2 separate regions of the Homo sapiens genome follow, and region 1 is linked to region 2. The links come from fine-mapping of genetic effects on gene expression. A gene starts in region 2. The other region holds a variant in brackets. All regions are shown on one strand. Distances are between the middles of the regions. Region 1 overlaps CEP63 (centrosomal protein 63). Region 2 holds the start of CEP63 (centrosomal protein 63).

The links.
Region 1: its variant is fine-mapped to the expression of CEP63 in whole blood (INTERVAL, PIP 0.98).

The regions. Positions count from the first base shown.
Region 1 is chr3:134,545,018-134,557,254 of GRCh38, forward strand. CEP63 (centrosomal protein 63) reads left to right here. Exons shown (of 15, transcript NM_001353108.3): 7 at 569-802; 8 at 1,132-1,271; 9 at 2,318-2,455; 10 at 4,045-4,159; 11 at 5,046-5,243; 12 at 6,909-6,995. Among named protein-coding and RNA genes, the nearest start is that of CEP63, 65 kb to the left of the region's middle. The variant TATATATATATATAC/T (reference allele first, on the strand shown) is at 6,725.
Region 2 is chr3:134,480,948-134,493,184 of GRCh38, forward strand. It overlaps CEP63 (centrosomal protein 63), which reads left to right and starts at 5,110. Exons shown (of 15, transcript NM_001353108.3): 1 at 5,110-5,255. It overlaps ANAPC13 (anaphase promoting complex subunit 13), which reads right to left and starts at 5,038. Exons shown (of 3, transcript NM_015391.4): 1 at 5,005-5,038; 2 at 1,859-1,984. The coding sequence starts at 1,957. RefSeq lists enhancers at 4,693-4,812, 4,843-4,942, 5,023-5,132, 5,224-6,042.

The sequences.
Region 1 (12,237 bases), 64 kb after region 2:
AGAGTCTCATTCTGTCACTAGGCTGCAGTGCAGTGGCGCAATCTCGGCTCACTGCAACCTCCAACTCCCTGGTTCAAGTGATTCTCCTGCCTCAGCCTCCCGATCCCGAGTAGCTGGGATTACAGGCACGCGCCACCACGCCCAGCTAATTTTTGTATTTTTAGTAGAGACGGGTTTCACCATGTTGGCAAGGATGGTCTCAATCTCCTGACCTCATGATCCGCCCACCTCAGCCTCTCAAAGTGCGGGATTACAGGCGTGATCCACTGCACCCGGCCAATTTTTGTATTTTTTATAAAGACAGGGTTTCGCCATGTTTCCAGGCTGATCTCGAACTCCTGAGCTCAAGCGATCTGCCTGCCTCAGCCTCCCATAGTGTTAGGATTACAGGCGTGAGCCACCACTCCCAGCCTCTCAATTCTTTCTTACCCCTTCGCAATATATATATATATATTTTAGTGAGCCAATGCTTTATGTTTTTATGGAAATAATAGTTTCATTTTAGTCTTATTCATTGATTATTTTATCATTTCCCTTTTACCTATTGATTGATAGTCTGTGTTTCTAGGCTCAGCTTGTCAATCGGAAACAGAAATTAGAGTCTGTGGAACTTTCTAGCCAATCAGAAATTCAACACTTAAGCAGTAAACTGGAGCGGGCTAATGACACTATCTGTGCCAATGAGTTGGAAATAGAGCGCCTCACCATGAGGGTCAATGACTTGGTTGGAACCAGTATGACTGTCCTACAGGAGCAGCAGCAAAAAGAAGAAAAATTGAGGGAATCTGAAAAACTATTAGAGGTATGTTTTAAAATCACTATAATTGGGGGAAGTGTGTGTATGAGTATTTTAAGAGAGTGTTATTAAGCTAGAACTAGGTTCTACAATCCATACTTTCTTCCCTACTTTATAAATGATGGATCAGATATTGATAGTTTTACTAATATTGTGACTTTATTACAATATTTACAATATTGTAATATTGTTACGTAACTTATAGTCTGACTTCCTGGCTTCTCGTGAAATAGAAAAATTGTAATAATAGCTGGCTTAGAAATTTCTGAGTATTTTGCAGGTTCTGCAGGAATTAAAAAGAAGGAAAATTATAATCATATTTGACTTTTTTGCAGGCTCTGCAGGAAGAAAAGAGAGAATTGAAGGCAGCTCTTCAGTCTCAAGAAAATCTCATACATGAGGCCAGAATACAAAAGGAGAAGTTACAAGAAAAAGTAAAGGCAACTAACACTCAACATGCTGTAGAAGCTATAAGGTAAATTTAATCTTAAATATTATTCATCTTAGCCACTTAATGACTAGGTATTAAGCACTAGGCTTATTTTTATTTTTATTTTTATTTTATTTTCAGATAGTCTCCTGTTGCCCAGACTGGAGTGCAGTGGTGCAATCTCAGCTCACTGCAACCTCAACCTCCGAGGTTCAAGCCATTCTCCAGGCTCAGCCTCCCAAGTAGCTGGGACTACAGGTGCATGCTACCACACCTGGCTAGTTTTTTGTATTTTTAGAGACGGGCATTCATCATGTTGGCTAGGCCGGTCTTAAATTCCTAACCTCAGGTGATCTGCCCACCTCAGCCTCCCAAAGTGCTGGGATTACAGGTGTGAGCTGCCACGCCCATCCAAGCACTAGTTTTCATATTGCATATTCATAATTTTATGTTTGATCATATTGTGGATTTTCTTAATTGGCTTTAACTTCTGAGTTAGGTTTTTAAAGTGTTATAAAATTTTGTGTGGTTAATTTTCTTCTGCCACCAGTTAGGGTCCCTAACAGAGACTCTCATGTTTAGAAAGTTAGAAACCAAGGTCAGTTTGCATGCTTGGTGAAAATCCAAATGTGCAGGGAATTGTCATCCATGTCTCCTGGAGGCCTCACTTTGTTGGTGGAATAAGTTGTGATTAGTAGCTGCTTATCATTAATAGCAGCCAGCCATTGGGCTAGCCCTCTTGCTTGATTTAAGTCTGATGCACACTTTTATTTTTGCCAGAATTCTCCTGTAACTTTTCAGTTTTTTTGGTACAGGGTTTCAAGTGTCACTGAAGTGATTTTGCCATTTTGTCTTTTTCCCTTGAAAAAAGGCCAAATCCCAGTTAAGAAGGGAGTAAATTGCTACTTTTTGAAGTATCAGCATCTCTTGACTCTTTCTTTCCTCTCCCAATATTCTTTTTATAAAGCAGGAGACAAACTTGAAGAGTTCCAAAGAGGTTACCAAAAATGATGGGGAAACACAGACTAGATGAGCATTATTTTTGTTTGCAGAGATAAAGGCGTTAACAATCATCCTATGTCTTTCCATAGGCCACGGGAAGAATCTCTGGCAGAAAAGAAGTACACCTCTCAAGGGCAGGGGGACTTAGACAGTGTGCTCTCCCAGTTGAATTTTACCCATACTAGTGAGGACCTTCTGCAGGCAGAGGTGACTTGTCTTGAAGGCAGGTACATAATTATACACACATTTCAAAAATTTCAAGTTGTTAAAATGAATTTTTGATCATCATATTGTAAATGAATGTAATAGTCATAGTAAAAAAAATAAGATTTTTTTCTAGTATCCACAAATGGCCTAAGTTCTTATTTCTTTTTTTTTTTTTTTGAGACGGAGTCCGCTCTGTCACCCAGACTGGAGTGCAATGGCACAATCTCAGCTCACTGCAACCTCCGCCTCCCGGTTCAATTGATTCTTCTGCCCCAGCCTCCTGAGTAGCTGAGATTACAGGCGTGCACCACCATGCCTGGCTAATTTTTATATTTTTGTAGAGACGGTGTTTCACCATGTTGGCCAGGCTGGTCTTGAACTCCTGACCTCAGGTGATCCACCTGCCTTGGCCTCCCAAAGTGCTGGGATTACAGGCATGAGTCACCGCACCCTGCCCTAAGTTCTTATTTCATTGAGAAGACAGAAGCAATTAAAGGAGAACCTCTTAATCTTTCTGTCATCAAATCTACCAGTCTGCCCATACCTGTGCCTTTCTGCACTTCTAAGACCAACCACTCCACTTGTGTCCTTTTTCTGTAGTTATATCCTTTCTCTTCTGCATCATCAAGTTCTTTCTGTCTGCTGAATCTATCCACTGGTATAAAATACGCTGTAACATCACCCATCTGGGGGAAAAACCATCCCTTAATCCTATGTCTCCGTCAAGTTATTTCCACATTTCTGTACTTCTCTTTAAGACCAAATTCTTCAAAAGAGTTGTCTATACTGACTCTACTTCTTTACCTTTCACCTGTTTAGCAGCCCTTCACTTAGGTTTTCCTCCTTGCCACCTCAGAAGCAGGGTAGGAAGGGGTAACAGTTGACACATGGTGATCCTTTTTGTTCTGCTGTGGTGTTGTTACTTCCTTGGGTGTTAATTGAATCCTGACTAATGCTATACCATACCCACCTAAACACTTGTCATTGTCGTACTTATAGAATTTTTTTTGGTTTTTCATAACCTCTCAACTTTTTGATTGGGAAGAGTGTGATATCTTGTTTTAAACACATGAATCATGATCATTTGTACACTGACATTTTCTGTATGTAAAAGATAAAATTGCTTTTAACATGAACTGTTAACCTTTAGGCAAACAACAAGAGAAATATCATTTTACACTTTTTAGGTTATCTTTAAGTAATACATTTTTTGTTTTTACATTTATTTCTGGTTTTGGAAACCAGTAAGTATTTTCTTACTTTTATCTACATGTTAAATACACAAACATGCATACACACACATATTTTCTGCTTTATTCCTTTTGGAATACTTGGAGTACTTGAGATAGTCTTTGTTATTATTGAAGTATATGTGTACTCTTCCGTTTGACTAAAATTAAGTTTATTATTTTTGACGTTGGGACAACAGTTTACATTTTTATCACAGTTTTTTTATTGATTGGCTTTTTAGTAATATTTTAAATGACTGAGGTGATGTTTAAGATATTGGCTGGATATTTTTTGGATATCAAGAATGTAAATTAGATAGTCCAATTTATAGGTTTCAGGATTTTGGTTTTAAGTATGGGATCTTATTTTTGTCATACAGTTTGGAATCTGTGAGTGCAACGTGTAAACAGCTGAGCCAAGAACTAATGGAAAAATATGAAGAACTGAAGAGGATGGAAGCACATAACAATGAATACAAAGCAGAGATTAAGAAGGTAAAAATCTGCATACCTAGGATTGCAAAATTGTATGTGTTTATGGACAAAGCTGTGGATTGGGAGATTATAGGGGTTATTTTTAATGAGAAAAAAATGTAGTTCAAGGGACCACTTGATATTTAGGAGTGGAAGAGTTTGTGGAATGTGCATAGGGAAAGTGCCTTCTTTCTTTGGCATCGCCCCTGATGCCCAATAAATATTTTTAAGATAATTGAAGGCTGTCCCCTTTGAACTCAAAAACTTTATTTTAAACATGTTTTGATGAAAAGTTTTCTAAAAGACATACACTCTGTTGCTTGCAAAAAAATATGAACTGTCACTTAATATTTTCTTATTGCCTAAAGATAGTATTTATGTATTGTCTCCTGTGCTATGATGTAGTTAGTATCCTTGTCAGCTATTGAGGTATGCAGAGCTGTTTGTGTCTATATGAATGGGCCCTAACTGTCCTATTTGTTTGATTTGTATTTTTTGTTACTTCTTTAAGATTACTTCTAGTTCCTTACTTCCTCTTGTTCTATTTGTTATCCTGTGGACTAAGATACCATATGAGCAAAACTTTTAGATTCACAACTAAAAAAAAGAATGAAGGTCACAAGTACTCTCCTCTAAATTGTGTGCATGGACCTTGATTCTGGTCCTCAGCACTTGAATAACCCATCTCTCCCTGTTTTGAGGTATAATAAATGATTGTAGGTATAACCACCTGACCTTCAGTACAGATATGCAACTTGGTAAATTGCTAATTTTTCTGCAGATTTAATTTAAGAGAAATTTAATGTCTTGAGATAAGGTGAACTTTTATTTTATTAGCTAGTAACATATTATTCTATCTAAATGCTTTCTCTTAACTTTTGGTGCTTTCTTTTCTGCTTCTTTATAGTTGAAAGAACAGATTTTACAGGGTGAACAAAGTTACAGTTCTGCACTAGAAGGAATGAAGATGGAAATCTCCCATCTAACTCAGGAGTTACATCAGCGAGATATCACTATTGCTTCCACCAAAGGTTCTTCCTCAGACATGGAAAAGCGACTCAGAGCAGAGATGCAAAAGGCAGAAGACAAAGCAGTAGAGCATAAGGTGAAGCCTGAACAAAACCTTTTTTAAATTTGAAATTTGTTTTAAAGATGGAGTTGATTAAAGACATAATTTTCATAATATTTAATTCAGTGAATTTTTATTAGATACCTGCTTTGAGCTGAGAGTATGCTGGCTAGCAAAGAGTTTAGTGAGCATGGTGGGGAGGTGAGAGTAGACACAGACAAGTAAAGTGACTGTATCAGTGGTGTATGGTGAGAGTCACTAGAGATCACAAGCAGCCTGAATCTAGACCACTCGCTGCAAAGGCCTTCCAGAAGGTGTGATAGCAAAGCTAAGTTAGGAGCAAGCTGGGTGATGGGGAGGAAAAGTGTTTCAGGCACAGGAAAATACAGAGGTCTCTAAGAGAGAGTAGAAACACGCTTGCTGTGGTTGAAACTAGAGTACAAGTGGGATGAGTGGAAGGTATGAGACTGGAAAGCAGGGACTGGCTGCTGAAGGGCTACGTTAGCCACGTAAAGGAGTTATACTGTGACCTTGAGGTCAGTAGGGAATGGCTGCAAGCAGGAGTAAAATTCAGTGGTCCTTAAATGGAGAATAAGCAGGGAGACAGAGCACCCAGATGCTGTTACAGTGGTAAGATGGTGGCCTGAGCAGTGGGCAAGGGAGGCAGAGGGAAATGGATGAATTCTGGAGATACTGGGCTGGTAAAAATGACTGGGCATTGTATTTGATTGGCAGGGAAGGTGAGGTAGGCAGAGTTAAGGAATGGTGCTCCACAGGATTTAAACTTAGGCAACTGATGGAAAGTGATGCTTTTTAATGAAATAGAGAAAAGACAGGGAGCAAGTTTGGTGAAGGATGATGAATTTGTGTGAAAAGTACACAGACTGGGGAAACTGGTGGAGAGGACATTGGTTTGACACATTTGTTTGGAATAAAGGCTGGAATTTTGTATGGGTAATAGTCAATTCCACAGAAGGCCTGGAGTTGAAGATTAAAATCAGGATTAGGCATTTAGCTGTGGCTGTCCTTTCTTCATGGTGACATTTGAAACCCCCTGAGAGACTTAATGATTATAGTGAGAAAGCATAGCGTAAGAAGAGAAGTGACTCAAACCAAACTTAGGATACTTCTCATTTAGTGTAAAAAAGATGTTGGAATGAAGCTTAAAAAAAGGAGCAGTGAGGAGGGAAATCAGATAGTTTTTGCCAAGCCAAGGAAAGAAGGAATATTTTCAAATGGGAATGGTCAAGCACAAAAGCTGAGGGGAATGAGAACTGAATATAAGTTGTTATTTTGTGAATAAAGTACAATTCCATGTGACGTTGCAGGTAGAAGCCAAATTGGAGGAGGCCAGCACAGGAGAATGGGTAGGGATTTAAGGGGTTCAGTGGATTGAAACTTTGCTGCTTTGTCACCTGATTTATCCTATTAGAATGATATCTTCATCCCATTCATGTTCATTCACCTTAATAACATCTTAAAAATCTTTTTAGAAAGTCCATATATATATATATATA[TATATATATATATAC/T]ACACACACACGTACATATATATATGTATATATATATATAAATATGTATATGTATATATATATAAATGAAGAATATGACTTAGCCTAATGAAAATTCCATGTGGAAAAATTTTGTAAGATGCATGTGATTTACATGTTATATTTATTTTTTTCTGTTTTCCCCTTTTCAGGAGATTTTGGATCAGCTGGAGTCACTCAAATTAGAAAATCGTCATCTTTCTGAAATGGTGATGAAATTGGAATTGGGTTTACATGAGGTACATAAATAGAAACTTAAGTTTTTCTACTATCCAAGCCTTCAAAAAAATTACTTTGTAAATATTTACATTATAAAGAGAGAATTAAGATCAACTTAGATCCTTTTGCAGAAATTTTCTCAAAGAAAATGAAGGTAAAACAATACTGGAAGTGAGCAAAATATGACTCTCCACTCCAGCAGCAGGAAGGGTTTTTGTTTGTTTTTTTGAGACGGGGTTTCACTCTTGTTACCCAGGCTGGAGTGCAATGGCGTGATCTTGGCTCACCGCAGCCTCCACCTCCCGGGTTCAAATGATGCTCCTGCCTCAGCCTCCTGAGTAACTGGGATCACAGGCATGCGCCACCACACCTGGCTGATGTTGTATTTTCAGTAGAGGCAGGGTTTCTCCATGTTGGTCAGGCTGGTCTCGAACTCCCAATCTCAGGTGATCTGCCCGCCTCAGCCTCCCAAAGTGCTGGGATTACAGGCATGAGCCACCGTGCTCGGCCAGGAAGGTATTTTTTTATATTATGTATGTGATAAAATTTACCTACAGTCTGTGTTCTTAGTTGGAAGAATGTATATGAAGGACTTAGCATATAGTACATAGTACCTGACACTTAGTAAGTATGCAATACATCCTAGATGGTGGTATTATTATTATTATTATTATTGTTAATGATTATTATGTTTGTTATCTTTTTAGAAAGTATATTGTCTTTAAAATAATTTAATTTTAATTTTATTTCTACAAGATATTCACATAATAAAATATTTTAGAATCTTTTATATCCAAGGACTTTTAGTAGGTGCTATAATGAACACAGGCTGAATAAGATAGCATTCTTGCCTTTAAGAGAGATTTTGGATCAGCTGCAATTACTCAAATTACTCTAGCCTTTAAGAGACTAGAGTAATCTAGTAGCAAGGATAAGAAATGCATACAAGCTTCTGTGAAACCAGAGAGAACATGATTAGCCAACAGTGAATTACAGTATAGATGCTCTTTTAACTGTTTTGTTACAAAATTCCTATAATTTGCAAAATGACTCATCTATTCTGACCCATCTTTTCTTGGTGTAGGTCAGATGTCTGAAAATTGTATAAATGCTTTTTTCCTGCATTTCCAGAGAGTATTCCTCCAAAAAGATATATGGTTCCAACATGCTCCCTGTTTGCTCTGAAAAATTCTAATTTCACAATCCAGGATTGTGGATACTGGGGTGGAAGAACATGCAAAAGACTATTATAGAGTACCTTATTTCAACTGGAAAAATGGGGGACTATTTTTGTAATCTTTCAGAAGGGTAAGATTCTCCAAACATCATGACGCCATAGAGGATTTTACAACATAAAAATGTGAAGTTTCTGGATGGTAAAAGGCCCTATTAAAAAAGACTAATAGGGAGAAAACAGTTTATAATCAGACAAAAGGTTAATGTAAATTATTAATATATAAAAATTCCCTACAAAGATAATAAGGAAAAGATAATCTAGTAGAAAAATAGGCAAAGAATGTAGATAGATACCTCACAGAATTAATATAAATATCTAGTAAACAAAGAAAACTGTTCAACCTCTCTAATAAAGCAAAATAGACATTCTTTTACTAATTGGTTTGATAATAACCTTTAAAAACTAATATATAGCCAGTGTTAGAAAGATGTAAGGAAACAGACTTATTGCACTGTCAATGAGAAAGTGAATTGATACGGCCTTTCTAGAGGACAGCTTAGCAATATCCATCAAATGCGTAAATACGTATAGCCTCTAAATTCCTGGGTCATGTGTGTTTCTGATTTTGATAGTCCTTGCTGAATTGTTTTCAGAATGGTCTTATCTTTTTACATTCCCATGGAAACCATTCTCTAGGAGCAAGTGTGCATAAAATGGTCATTGAAGTATTGTTCGCAATATCCAAAATTTTGAAATAAACTATATTTATTTCAATGGTTAATTTTTGATTTTATGAATATTACACTGTCATTGAAGGTGGCAGATGAAAACACTCATCTGATCTTGCTCTATCCTCAAATCCCTCTAAAACTGTCATGAAAGGATTTATTTTTGTTCTATTTTATTTTTATTTTTTTCCTTTTATTATTATACTTTAAGTTTTAGGGTACATGTGCACATTGTGCAGGTTAGTTACCTATGTATACATGTGCCATGCTGGTGCACTGCACCCACTAACTCGTTATCTAGCATTAGGTATATCTCCCAATGCTATCCCTCCCCCCTTCCCCCACCCCACAACAGTCCCCAGAGTGTGATGTTCCCCTTCCTGTGTCCATGTGATCTCATTGTTCAATTCCCACCTATGAGTGAGAATATGCAGTGTTTGGTTTTTTGTTCTTGTGATAGTTTACTGAGAATGATGATTTCCAATTTCATCCATGTCCCTACAAAGGACATGAACTCATCATTTTTTATGGCTGCATAGTATTCCATGGTGTATATGTGCCACATTTTCTTAACCCAGTCTATCATTGTTGGACATTTGGGTTGCTTCCAAGTCTTTGCTATTGTGAATAGTGCCGCAATAAACATACGTGTGCATGTGTCTTTATAGCAGCATGATTTATAGTCCTTTGGGTATATACCCAGTAATGGGATGGCTGGGTCAAATGGTATTTCTAGTTCTAGATCCCTGAGGAATCGCCACACTGACTTCCACAATGGTTGAACTACTTTATAGTCCCACCAACAGTGTAAAAGTGTTCCTATTTCTCCACATCCTCTCCAGCACCTGTTGTTTCCTGACTTTTTAATGACTGCCATTCTAACTGGTGTGAGATGGTATCTCATTGTGGTTTTGATTTGCACTTCTCTGATGGCCAGTGATGATGAGCATTTTTTCATGTGTTTTTTGGCTGCATAAATGTCTTCTTTTGAGAAGTGTCTGTTCATGTCCTTTGCCCACTTTTTGATGGGGTTGTTTGTTTTTTTCTTGTAAATTTGTTTGAGTTCATTGTAGATTCTGGATATTAGCCCTTTGTCAGATGAGTAGGTTGCCAAAGACAAAAACCACATGATTATCTCAATAGATGCAGAAAAGGCCTTTGACAAAATTCAACAACCCTTCATGCTAAAAACTCTCAATAAATTAGGTATTGATGGGACGTATTTCAAAATAATAAGAGCTATCTATGACAAACCCACAGCCAATATCATACTGAATGGGCAAAAACTGGAAGCATTCCCTTTGAAAACTGGCACAAGACAGGGATGCCCTCTCTCATCACTCCTATTCAACATACTGTTGGAAGTTCTGGCCAGGGCAATTAGGCAGGAGAAGGAAATAAAGGGTATTCAGTTAGGAAAAGAGGAAGTCAAATTGTTCCTCTTTGCAGACGACATGATTGTATATCTAGAAAACCCCATTGTCTCAGCCCAAAATCTCCTTAAGCTGATAAGCAACTTCAGCAAAGTCTCAGGATACAAAATCAATGTACAAAAATCACAAGCATTCTTATACACCAGCAACAGACAAACAGAGAGCCAAATCATGAGTGAACTCCCATTCACAATTGCTTCAAAGAGAATAAAATACCTAGGAATCCAACTTACAAGGGATGTGAAGGACCTCTTCAAGGAGAACTACAAACCACTGCTCAAGGAAATAAAACAGGATACAAACAAATGGAAGAACATCCCATGCTCATGGGTAGGAAGAATCAATATCGTGAAAATGGCTATACTGCCCAAGGTAATTTACAGATTCAATGCCATCCCCATCAAGCTACCAATGCCTTTCTTCACAGAATTGGAAAAAACTACTTTAAAGTTCATATGGAACCAAAAAAGAGCCCGCATCGCCAAGTCAATCCTAAGCAAAAAGAACAAAGCTGGAGGCATCACCCTACTTGACTTCAAACTATACTACAAGGCTACAGTAACCAAAACAGCATGGTACTGGTACCAAAAAAGAGATATAGATCAATGGAACAGAACAGAGCCCTCAGAAATAATGCCGCATATCTACAACTATCTGATCTTTGACAAACCTGAGAAAAACAAGCAATGGGGAAAGGATTCCCTATTTAATAAATGGTGCTGGGAAAACTGGCTAGCCATATGTAGAAAGCTGAAACTGGATCCCTTCCTTACACCTTATACAAAAATCAATTCAAGATGGATTAAAGACTTAAACGTTAGACCTAAAACCATAAAAACCCTAGAAGAAAACCTAGGCAATACCATTCAGGACATAGGCATGGGCAAGGACTTCATGTCTAAAACACCAAAAGCAATGGCAACAAAAGCCAAAATTGACAAATGGGATCTCATTAAACTAAAGAGCTTCTGTACAGCAAAAGAAACTACCATCAGAGTGAACAGGCAACCTACAAAATGGGAGAAAATTTTCGAAAGGATTTATTTTTAAAGCGCAAACCCACGAGGTTGGGAATAATAGGAGAGGAGACAATAGCTAAACATTTTGTAAGGGGGAAAGTGGGAAGGAGGGAAGGAAGGAAGGAAGGGAGGGAGGGAACTTGATATCCCCTAATAAAGTCAATACTAAGCTAGTAGTGGAGAACTCTAAGAACTAAACTGATTTACACCACAGAATTCTGTAAAGGCTTAGGATTCAGCAGTACTTGGTTGAGAGACTCTTATCTTATGCAGTGATTATCTGTTCATATTTAAGAATTGAGAACTCTCAGGGGAACTTAAGCCAGACCATGACCAGAGATGCTGTTCAGCTTAATTTCTCCTGAAACTTCCAGCTATCAATAATAGTGGTAATACTGTTCTTTCTTTAGACAGCTAGATGTGTGCTCGCTACTCAGTTTTCATATTACCTTTCATATTCATTTATCTGTAGTAATTGTTTATAAAATAATAACTTAGAGAAATTTTTAAAACATACCTGAATGAAGGTAAGCATTATCATTTTTTAATAAGTATGTTTAATGACATCAGACATCAAACTGGTGAAAACCTTGTCAGCAGTTTAAGCTTTCTCTAGTTTTGAAATTACATACAGTGTGAATATGTTGTACATATTATGAAGAATAATTATTAGAAAATGCCCTTTTGTATTTTACCATGTAGGAAGCTGAAGTTACTTGTACAAATGAATGTTTGGGTTAAATGTCTATTTTAATAAATTACCTAATTATCTTAATAATGAAAGCAACAGCTCTGATAAATTACTGACCATGTTTTAAAAACCGATAATAGTTTCATTTTAACTCGTATGTCCTGCAGATGTTCTTCTCTGATATTTTATCTGGCATTGACAACTTGTTGAAAGA
Region 2 (12,237 bases):
GTGGATTAGCAGCAGGGCCAAGCCAACTTCGCCTGGAAGTCAGCAGGGAAACCTCCTTCCACCCCTGCCACCCAAATGTTCTCCAATCTGAGCCATAAACTTCTCCAGAAATGGACGTCTCCTTTATTTTCTTGACTTTGTTTAGGCCCTCCTCCCTTGCCTAGACCACAACAGCTTGCCAATTGGTCTCACTTGCCCCTATCTCCATGTCACACCATCTCTAACAATGCTGGCTAAACTGATTTTCCAAAAGCCAAATCTGAGCATAGCAGTCTTGCTTTTAAGACCATTCATTCCTGGATCTCCTGAGGATGAGGTCTAAGTGTGATATCAAATACCACTCTCAATCTGATCCAAGCCCAACTTTTCAGCCTACTTATGTGACAAATGTATTCTTCATCCACAGTGAATGACTCACCATGTCCCAAAGCCTTTCAAAACTCTGGGCCTTTACACATCTGTCCCCTCTGCTGCAATACCCTTGTCTACCTCCACTAAACTTCTGGTCCTTCCTTATGACCCAGCTTAAACATGACATTCTCTCAGAAGCCTTTCTGATGCCCACCAGGCAATCAGCCACTTCGTATATGATGTGGCTGTTTATGCCCCCACCTAGAATATTTATTATCACAATTACTTATCTATAAGTGTTGCCTTTCTAGACCCCTCAGGAGGAGGAACTGTATCTTATGTTCACATAGTCTTATGGCACACAGTAGGCTTCAAAAAATGCTTGTCAAATGAATGAATGAACAGAAGTTCACAAGACAGGATTTGGAACTTCACAGACCTAGGTATATGTTATATGAAGCCCTACTTACCTGCTACCAGACTTTGGGCAAGTTGCCCTTTCTGATCCTATTCTTTTCCTATAAAATGGGAATAACAGCACCTCCCTCACAGGGTTGTTTAAGAATTAGAGATAATGTATATTTCCAACCTCAGTCCATGGCATAAAACTGGTATTCAATAAATGACATCTATAATTCTTATTATGCTCTCTCTTTTGACTATTTTCCTAAGCTTGAACTAAGCTATGACTTATTTGATATGTATATTATTCATTGAACATATTACTATCTCTTATTCGTAAATGAAAATACAGATGAACTATTTTATTTCTTTGCAAACAGCAACAGCAGATATTCTAACTATAAATTATATTTTATTCAATACTAACTACTCTTCTCAGGGCAGCTGGCATGCTTTAAAGAAAAACAGTCCTGTTTTCCCTTTTTTAGGCCTCTATGACATAAATAGGATTTTAAACAAACATTTATATAAGCAAAACTTTTGGATCACTTATTACATGAGGTTTAACAAACTCCCTGCAGCAGAGTTTTCCAAAGATGGGGAAGAAAAGAGTATTCCAGAAGGCCACTGGCCTAAACGCAAAAGAATACCCAGGTATCTTCTGAATATTTTCCAGGGAACCTAAGATAGGTGTATGCTCCAAGAATGTAAGTTTCTAAAAATGCTGAAAGACTGATGAGCCACAGGCAGGGAAGTAAGAAACAGAGCTCATATGCTGCTGCTTCTTGTTCTTCCCCATCTTGCGCATTAAACTCTCATTATTTGGTTTCTCTGGTTTTCGTGTGGTGGACAGAACATGGCTCAGAAAATCGGGGCTCTAGTCCTGGCATGACTCCTAACTGACCTGGCCATGTTAGCTCCCTGAACCACATTTTTCTTCAAATAAAACATACAACTGGATGCTCTCCAGAAGCTTCTAGAGTTAGAGAATTCCACAGCTTTGATTTCTTTGCCACACTAGTTTATCTTCCATTGATATCCCTCCTCCACTAGTTACTGCCAGATCAATACCTTTAACCCATCCTCAGCTCAAATCATAACCTACCAGTGGTATTGCGACATCCTCATAAGGCAGCTTGTCTTCTCGCCAAGCATCATCAATCAAATCCAAGATCCTTCCATCTCTCTGAACCTCACTGTCCATTTTCCTGCAGCTTTGATCTTGTCAAATCTGTAAGCCAAAGAGGTTATTTCTTAAACACGAAGACTGAAGAGATGGTATAATCCACTATTAGGATTCTCCAGGCTTTTTAGTCTGGGGCCACCTTTTGGGAAAAGGTTCATTTTCTCATATGGGCCGGGTGACTACTTTGATCACAGTTCCTCTCTCCAACCCCAACTGATACATATTTTATAGTGTATACTGGACAGGCATAGCCCAGCTGACAGACCAGTGTCATAGAGTGTGACAGGAGAGCAACACGTTAAACGAGGCCCTCAAATATTAATATGTTGCATCTCAATGTAGCTCTTCTCTTCTAACTTGAACATTCACCTTTTCCTGTTTGTGATGCCTTTGATGAGTCCCTGATTCATAATGGCCAGCTAAGTTTCCTTTCTAGCCCCTGGCTCAAACCTCAGCATTCTTAGGCACAGGAGTCACACGAACATACTGTAAAGGAAACGGCTTCCTTCCCTAAAATAGTACCCAGGCTGAGATCTGAATAAAGCACTTCTAGGTGAACACCAGTGGTAGAACCTCATACTGCTAAAGTTTCTCCAGTTTCTGCTTCCCTTTGGGGTAGCTCCTTCCTCGGAGGTTCCTTCCTCTAATTCTTAACGCTACACTCCCTTCAATTTCTGGCCCAAATGGTCACGATGCTTATTTAGCTCCTTGACCATGGCTGATTCCCCATTTTTCTCTGAAACTGCTATAATCTAATCCAAAAGGCTGGCTAGCTTGTAGGATACTTCTGGATTTCCCTGTTTCCAAGGTTGGGCCCTGACTCATCATAGGCATCATCCTATGGGTGCTCCCTGCTACCAAGTGACAATCCAAAAAGCCCGGAAGCCACTGGCATCAAAGGTACTCTCAGTTTCTGAGACTATGGAGACTCACACAATAAGCAATTTTGGGGTGGTGGAGCGGGGTGGAACCCACCATCTGGAGGTGCTTTTTTCAGAGCTCAGCCTGGGTGATATTTTAAGGAAGGAAGCCATTTCCTTTACAAGCTCAACTTCAGACATCGTCTTGCCTTGAGGATTTGTGTCAGGTCTGTAGTTGGTCCCTTCGCATAGTCCAGTTTAGTGTTATCTCAGTATGTTCATGAGCTCCTGTGCCTAAGAACGCTGAGGTTTGGGCCAAGGCAGGTGGAAGTTTTTGTAAAAATGGCTCACAGGGCCGGGCGCGGTGGCTCGCGCCTGTAATCCAGCACTTTGGGAGACCGAGGTGGGCGGATCACGAGGTCAGGAGATCAACACCATCCTGGCTAACAGGGTGAAACCTCGTCTCTACTAAAAATACAAAAAATTAGCCGAGCATGGTGGCAGGCGCCTGTAGTCCCAGCTACTCGGGAGGCTGAGGCAGGAGAATGGCGTGAACCTGGGAGGCGGAGCTTGCAGTGAGCCGAGATAGCGCCACGCGCCACTGCACTCCAGCCTGGGCGACAGAGCAAGATTCCGTCTCGGAAAAAAAAAAACAAAAAAAACCAAAAAGGCTCACAGCTGTCCCCCATAGGATAACTGCAAGATATCCCTAACACCTTGGCAAAAATTATACACAGATTGGTGTGGGAAAGGGTTTACACCCCCATGACAAGGATCTCGGCAAAAGTTAAGCAAAATGCGCCCTGCTACTTCTGTCACCGGTGAGCCAGGTGAGGGCTTAATTAATCCAGTACTCAATAATTAACCGAGTACTACCCAGTGGATAACTCAAAGCAAGACGAAGTTTTGGTTATACTTTTGAAGTCCCTGTCTTACAAGTGCTCCCCACTTTCCTGCTGCTACTCCTTTGTCCTTGCTGCTCTGTCTCCTGGGATACCCTTCTCACTTTCCTCAGCTGATCCAAACCTGACTTTCGGAGGCCCACGTAGATTTTCCACCTTTGTAAAGTTTTCTCAAATCACTCGAGCTTCAGTAGGCCTTCTATCCTTGAACTCTTGCTTCTTGTCCTAACTTAATCTACTAAACAAGCTAGGTCAGCTTTGTGGTCAATTGCTCAGGTATTATTGCCTCCAACTGTTACGTGTACATTTTGTACCCATGATTCCTTAGTAGATCTTTCCACATTTGGTCTCAATCTTTTTCACCTGTCCCTTCTCCAAACACCTCCAACCCTGTCACATTTTCCAGCCTTGACAGTTAAAACCCCCTTTTCCACATCACTAATGCCACTCTTCCTTTCAAGATAAACGCAGGCGTCAGCTCTTGAAGGTCAACATCCCATTTCCGGGATTAGGCGCGAAGGTGCCTTCCCTCATAAGGGGCTGGAAGGATGGGAAGCATCAAGATAATCAATGCCCAGGGCACACTGATTATCTTGTGTATTAAAGCCACCGTCCCAAGTACTCGTCACCCAGTACGACCACTGTTTCCTGAACAAACTTTTCTTACTCACGTGACAGTCCCGATGCCTGCAATGCTCTTTGTTTCTTCCTTTTTATTCCAGTGAACCCACAGTCAGTCTAAAAATCTTAGGTCCCAGGTCGCTTCCTATAGGAGGCCGCCTCCAAACCCCAGGCTGAGTGCGGTCCCGGTACCCACCCCTCCAGGGGTCTCACAGTTCCCTAAGCACAGAGCATGGCACCAACTGGGGAGTCTGTCAAACAGCCCAGATGAATGTCTTTCCAAACACGCGGTGCCTGCGTTTCCAGGGACAGGGACACGTCTTATCAATTTCTATATATTACAGCTTTGTAAACATAATATTTATAAAATCAAAGCGGGAAAGCCTTGTTCCTTGCTAGAAATGAGCCTCGCAGGCCACCACCATCCGCACCGTACGACAGGCCGTCCCTCAGCTGCGGCTTCCTGCCTCAGGCAGGATGTACCAAACGTGGAAGCGGAGACGGGGAGGTCTGGGGGTGCCACGCAAGTCCCTTTCCTCCCGACACGAGTGCAGTAAAGAAAAACGGTTATGAGCGTAAAGTGACAGCCTCGGCCGATGGGAATAGGGGGAAGTCCGACACTGAGCAACGAACGCATTCCCGCGCCTCCAAAACCTAGGCCGGGGGCGCTGGAAACCCTTACCGGCACCCGGCCACCGCGGCAGACGCTTGCTCCTGCCACGCCCCCCCCCCCTCCCCCGCATCACGTGTCTGCACTCGCTTTCCTCGGATTCCCGGATGTGGGTGAGTTCATTTGCTCGCGTGCAGGGGAAGTCTGGAGAAGGCATTGTTTCAATTATTAAAAGTGTGGGGGCAGTGGGCGGAACAAACGCGCCGACTACAGAGGCTGGACGTAAGCTTAGCGGTGGCGCGCGTGCGCAGCGCCGGCCCGAGGTAACGGCGGGAAGGCTCAGGGGCGTGCTTGCGGCAACCCTGTAACCGCCGGTGCGCAAGTTGGAGGGGCAAGGGGCTGCCGTGTCCTGGTCTGGAGGCGGCCCAGGCTGCCTTGGTGATTCTGGCTTCGCGGCCTCATGGCTTGCGGCCGGTTTGCGCAACGGCCTGCGAACCACCAGGCGCGTCCCCGCCGGCTTGGGTCCGCCCCGAAGCCCAGTCCCTCGGCCTGGCCCGCTATGCCCTGCACACTGGCGGAGTCTGGCGTGGCGCAGCCCGGCGTGGGGTTCGGCCCCGCCAGGTGGTCAGCCCTTCCTCGGAGTCCAGGTGGCTGGGGGCGCTTCGGAGAGTGGCCAGGTGGGCGAGCGAGCTGCGCCCAGTACTCACCTTCCCCGGCGGACCCACCTTCCTTTTCAGCGGAGAGACCCCAGTGCGGCCTCCCTGCCAGGGCTGCTGTCTAGCTAGCGCTGTTGGGACTACTTCATTCACGGCACAAGGGGACCCGCTCATTTAGTGTGGCATGTTAAGGTTGGCAGCTTTTAAAATAGTGAGTTGGTTTAAACGGTTATGTTAGTACAAGAGGTACGGAAATGTGGCATAAATCGTGGACTGAAATTGGAGAACCCTGAACTAACGGCTCCATGCACACAAATGAGGGATAGAAAGAAATAAGGACGGTTTCTTAGGAACACTTTAATCATGGAGATACTTGAAGACAGTACATTTAGGCTTATAATGTGGTTTTTCTTACGTCCCTTACGACATCAGGAGAGTAAAGATGAGTATGATGTCAGAGACAGGTCGTCTTTTACAGTTTCAGCACCGTACGCTGATATGCACAGAGTAGTTTTCCCTGAGCCTTATGTCTGGTTAAACTTATTAAAAGAATTTATTATTTTAATAAAGCAGTATTGTAGGGTAGATGCCCTGTATTTATACAGTTCCTCAAGTGCTTGCATTTATTTTTTAGATACGAGGAAATCATAAGGATCGTTGATTAGATTTCTGTTAGCTGTAGCTTAATGATAAAGTGTATATATTTTCTTATTTGGCATGCAGTACCATTTTTAGATTGATTTTTATTTTGAGTTTGCTTTTTGACTGTGGCATTATCAGTGATCAGGGTAGTAAAAAGCTCTGAAACTAAATTAGAGTAGAGATTTATAAACAGGCACACTGCCTTTTAAAATGTATGTAGATGCAAATCTAAAAGTTGTTTGTAAAAATTGTGTATGTTGATTGTACTGATGCCATTTCCTCTCGTTAAAATGGTGGAAGACCTTTGCTTAGTCCTTTCTGTTCTAATTTATGTTGTGCTGGCAGATGGTGACAGCATCAGTAGTCCACTCTGTCATTGCTTCCTGCTTTCAAAAAATGTCAACTTGACTTGAAATTCAGCTAAAGCCAACATTGACAGAAGGTTTCAGGAACTGAATCTCCGATCTTTATGTTATTTTAGTCCGCCTCCCCGCCCCCATCAGGAGCTAGGTTTTTCAGTTTTACAGAGCCACAGTACTGTCATTACACATACACAAATTAATAAAAATTCTCTAATGTCAATATCCAGTCAGATAACGATTTCTTCAACTGTCTCTTAAATGTCTTTTTACAATTAGCTTGTTTGAACCAAAATCCCACAGGGATCTGCCTATTGTGTTTGGGTGATGCACATTTGACATCTTTTAATCTATATTTGTTCCCTCATAGTTATAGCTATGGGATTAGCCCCTATTTTTCCTTACAGTTCTAAATTTAGCAGATTGCATCGCACAGTATCCTTTAACATGTATCTCTGTTGCCTTTGTGTCCTCTAAACCAGGGGCCCCCAAACCCGGGGCCGCAGAGCAGTACCAGTCCGTGGCCTGTTAGGAACCAGGCTACAGAGCAGGAGGTGAGTGACAGGCTAGTGAGCATTACCTACCACCTGAGCTCTGCCTCCTGTCAGATCAGCCGTGAGGTTAGATTCTCCTAGGGGCACGAACCCTATTGTAAACTGCGCATGCAAGGAATCTAGGTTGCACACTTATAAGAATCTGACTAATGCCTGATGATCTGAGGTGGAATAGTTTCATCCTGAAACCATGCCCCTAACCCTGTCCATGTGTATTATTCATATTACTGAAGAAGTGGTTGGCCGGGCGCGGTGACTCACGCCTGTAATCCCAGCACTTTGGGAGGCCGAGGTGGGCATGAGGTCAGGAGTTTGAGACCAGTGTGGCCAACATAGTGAAACCCCGTCTCTACTGAAAATGCAATAAAATTAGCCGAGTGTGGTGGTGTGCGCCTGTAATCCCAGCTACTCGGGAGGCTGAGGCAGGAGAATCACGTGAATCCGGGAGGCGGAGGTTGCAGTGAGCCGAGATCACACCATTGCTCTCCAGACCAGGCAAGAGTGCAAGACTCGGTCTCAAAAAACAAAAAAAAGTGGTTTGGCCATTCCTCCCCCAAAACATTTCATATGAATTTTAACAAAAAGATATTTACAAAATGTGTTATTTCCGCCCTGTCGGTGTTGAGAAATTGTCTTCCATGAAACAGGTCCCTGGTGCCAAAAAGGTTGGGGACCACTGCTCTAAACCAGTAGTTAGATGTAGAATTGCACTGTCCGGTATTGTAGCCACCAGCCAGCAGTGGCTAGTTAATTAAAGTGAAATAAAATTAAAAATTCAGTTCCTAGGCTGGGCGCGGTGGCTCACGCCTGTAATCCCAGCACTTTGGGAGGCTGAGGTGGGTGGATCACGAGGTCAGGAGTTCGAGACCAGCCTGACCAACATGGTGAAACCCCGTCTCTACTAAAAATGAAAAATTAGCCGGGCGTGGTGGCATGCGCCTGTAATCTCAGCTACTAAGGAAGCTGAGGCAGGAGAAGGAGAATCGCTTGAACCCGGGAGGTGGAGGTTGCAGTGAGCCGAGATCACGCCACTGCACTCCAGCCTGGGTGACGGAGCGAGACTGTCTCAAAAAAAAAAAAAAAAAAAAAATTCAGTTCCTAACTTGCATTAGCCACATTTCAAGTGCTCGGTAGCTACAGATTGCCTGGTGGCTGCTTTTTGAACAGTGCAGTTATAAAATATTTTCATAATTGCAGAAAGTTGTATTGAACAGCACTGCTCTAGAAGCCTGATGAGATTTCACCCTTATATTTGTTTTTGTTTTGTTTTTTGGTGGGATAGTTGGGGGGGTTGGACAGATAATTTCATAGGTAATGCAGTATACTTCCTATTTCATTAATTATCAGGGAAGCAGTGTCTGAGTTGTTTTCTTTTTTTATGATGTTAACATTAAACATTATATTGGGTTTAGGTGTAGTTAGCTCCATCCACCCATAGTGAAATTCCCCAAGACTCTTTCACTTAGTGGTGAAGTCCTTTTGTGGGGTTATATTGCCTGTATCCGTTATTGCATTAGAGGTTGCAACGTGGTGATTATCTAATTCTATTATTTCTTCAATATTTATCAACTGAGAGTCTTTTATGAAGAACTTTCCCTTTCCAGCTGTTTGACTACCCTGAAATACAATTTGTACAGGAAAGGCAAGAAAAATGCTTAATTCTTTGCCTCTATTTTCAGACCACAGTAATGAGTTGGTGGCCTAGCAGCCTCCAAAGGTAACCATGAGGGTTTTTGCCTTTTTGTAAACCTATAATCATGAACTTATAGACTTTATATTTAAACTGTTTCAACATATGGCAGTTGTGTTTTTAATACTCAAATTGTTTCATCTTTGGCCAGTGGGAGCTCCTTAAAGTTGGCTCCTATTCCATTTGATATGACCAATAGCTTTGGTAATTTCCTTGCTTTCTGGTAAATAATTTTCCTGGCTCATTTATAGATTTCTGGTCTTCAAGGAGCCGTGGTTCTTTTGAGTCTGAGATAGTATTTGGAGACCACAGTCTTACCTAGGTGGGAGAGGTGTTCTTGCTACTAGGTTAGTCGTTAGTTCTAGGATTTATGGTGGCCAGAGTTAGGAAATATTATATATTAAAAAAAACACAAATATGCAAAATTCGCATTGTTTCCAACATTTAACATTTAAATTTCCAAAATTTAAACTTAATTTTACAGTTTTTTCACACGTTGGATTTATGTTTGTATCTTTTTTGCTGAGTCTTGGTGCCTAGTGCCATTAATAGAATTAGTTTTTTTTCCTCATCCTATGTTATATATAATGGTTTCAAGTTAACAGGCTATTTTATTATCAATATGATTCCTGAATAGTGCTTAGGATTTCTTTGCAACTGTCTTTTATCCTTATTTTATATGTCTCTAGGAAAGTGTATAGTAAAATTATTGTATTTAAAGGCATATGAAGTAATTTATTGTATAGTTAGCCTATCAAGTTGATATCTAGTTGGTAGTTGATTTATTTTATTTTGTTTCCAATTTTTCAGTACTGCTTTTTTCCCCATTTTGATTTGTTTTATTATATGCAAAACCTTAGCATAATTCCCATAAAACAAGTACCCATAAAACAATTTAGCTTTCATCTCTGTTTCTTCCACTCTGCTTATTTTCCTTCCTTACTGATACTGTTTTTACTAGTTTTGAGTCTATCCTTCCATTAAAAAAACACATACCTAAAAGCAAATCTACATGGACAAACATACCTTTCTTTCTTAGGTAAAATGTGCTATTATGTATACTGTTTTCCATCTTGGGTTTTTCACCTAGTGATATATGTCCTGTAGATCCCCTCCTTAGGAGTATGTAGAGATTGTTATTCCTTTTTACAGTTTCGTAGTACTCCATTGGTGGATGAATATTTAATTCGTCCCCTCTTGATAGACACTTGTGTTATTTTCTGCTATTACAAATAGTCATGCAGTGAATATCCCTGTGGATATGTTGTTTTGCATTTTTGCCAATGAGCCTGTGGGATAGATTCTTAAAAGTAGCGTTGTTGGATAAAAGGGTAAATGCATATATCAGTTGTTAGGTATTACCAAAGTCTCCTCTATAGCAGTTGTGTTCATTTTGCATTCCTACCTATTATGTATATGAGTGCCTGTTGTCCCACAGCCTTGTCATCAGAGTGTATTATCAAACATTTAATTTTTGGTTAATCTGGTACAGAAGAAAGGGTAACTTACTGTAGTTTTAATTTGTATTTCTCTTATGAGCAAGGTTGAACATCTTTTCATATTTTTACTGTCATTTGTATTTTTCTGTGCATTGCTTGTTTATACCTCTCGCCCATGTTTCTATAGATTTTTTGCCTAATCTTTTATAAGCTCCTTATATATTTGGGTAATTAACCGTTTGTGGTAAAACTTTCAGGTACTGTTGTCATTTGTCAGTTAACTTTGCTTATGGCACTTTTTCATATAAAAGTTTGTTTTTATGTACTCCTATTTCTCAGACTTTCTCATTGTTCTTCCTGGATTTTGAACTATAGTTTGGACAATTTTTTAAAAACTTTAATATTTTGAAAAGTTTCTCTAATACCTTATTTACTGGTATCAGTTTAATTAGGAGCCTTTCTGGAAAATGCTTAGTAATACTGATTGTTCATCGGAACAGCCATAGTTTACTGGCCATGGTATATCTGACACAATCATAGAGCTTTGTAATGAAAACGACACCAAGGCAGGTACAGGGACAGAGAGCATTGTTATCCTCCTTTAGACTTGAAGGTTAGGCATATCCCTTCTCTTAGTATGTACACATTTATTCATAATTCTGTCTGGAGTTTTTATTTTCTTCCTGTGTCCCATTTTGTGAATAATTTGGTCTTGGGCATATACTATGATATTTTTCCTGATCTGTAAAATGATAAAGTTAAATTAGAGGCCTGAAGTGCTTTCTAGCTCATAAAGTCTATGTTAATGAATTTCAAAGATTTGCCTATTATAAGACATTCTATTTGTATTCTTTTTTTTTTTTTTTTTTTTTGAGACGGAGTTTTGCTCTGTCGCCCAGGCTGGAGTGCAGTGGCGCGATCTTGACTCACTGCAAGCTCCGCCTCCCGGGTTCACGCCATTCTCCTGCCTCAGCCTCCCGTGTAGCTGGGACTACAGGCGCGCGCCACCATGCCCGGCTAATTTTTGTATTTTTAGTAGAGACGGGGTTTCACCGTGTTAGCCAGGATGGTCTAATTTTATGTAATTATATGGCACATGCAAAGAAGAAATCAAAGTGACATAGTGCATAGAGTTGAATGATGGTCAGGTTGGTTAGGAAAAGAATCAGTGATATAACTATGAGCAACTCAGATGACAAACATCCACAGAAAATCAGCCCTTACTATTTGCCTGATCCTGAGAATTGATGGTGTTTGGCACCAGGCAGATGGTGAAGGTATTACAGAAACACTTTGCACATTAGTAAGTTTACTTTATTTCTCACATAGGATATTACTGGTCCACTTCCCTCCTTTTTTTTTTTTTTTTTAAACAGGAATCTCTATCTTAGACCATTTTGATTTCTAAAATAGCAATATTTCTTATGTGACTATTTCATTATTGTGCTGCTGCCACCTGGTGGCCACAGTAGTGATGTCATACTTCAGTTTAATTTCTTTTTTTATTGCAAAGACACTATTAAGCCAAAAGATAGGCTGATATATTTTAAGATATAGAATACTGTAAAATATATAAAGGTTGCACATCGATTGTGACTCAATTGATTGCCACAATGTCTAGGTTGAATCCAGGACTATAATTTTTAGTTTATCATAGTCAAGTTATTTAACTCTCTAAGCCTGTTTTCTCAAAGTAATAGTATCTGTCTTTTATGAGTATAGTGAAGATTGATTTAGACAATGTGTACAAGGCAGCTGTTGAACATTCAGTAACTTAACTTCTAAGTATATTATTAAATAGTCATAGAAAATATATTAATGTATATTACTAAATATATTAATGTTTAAGAATAACATGACCTAAATAAGTATAATTTTACTAATGATAATTTTGAATAACTGTGATAGCACTGTCAATAAGAATAGCACTTTCCTACATGTTAGTTAAGTATCCGTGTATGGTTG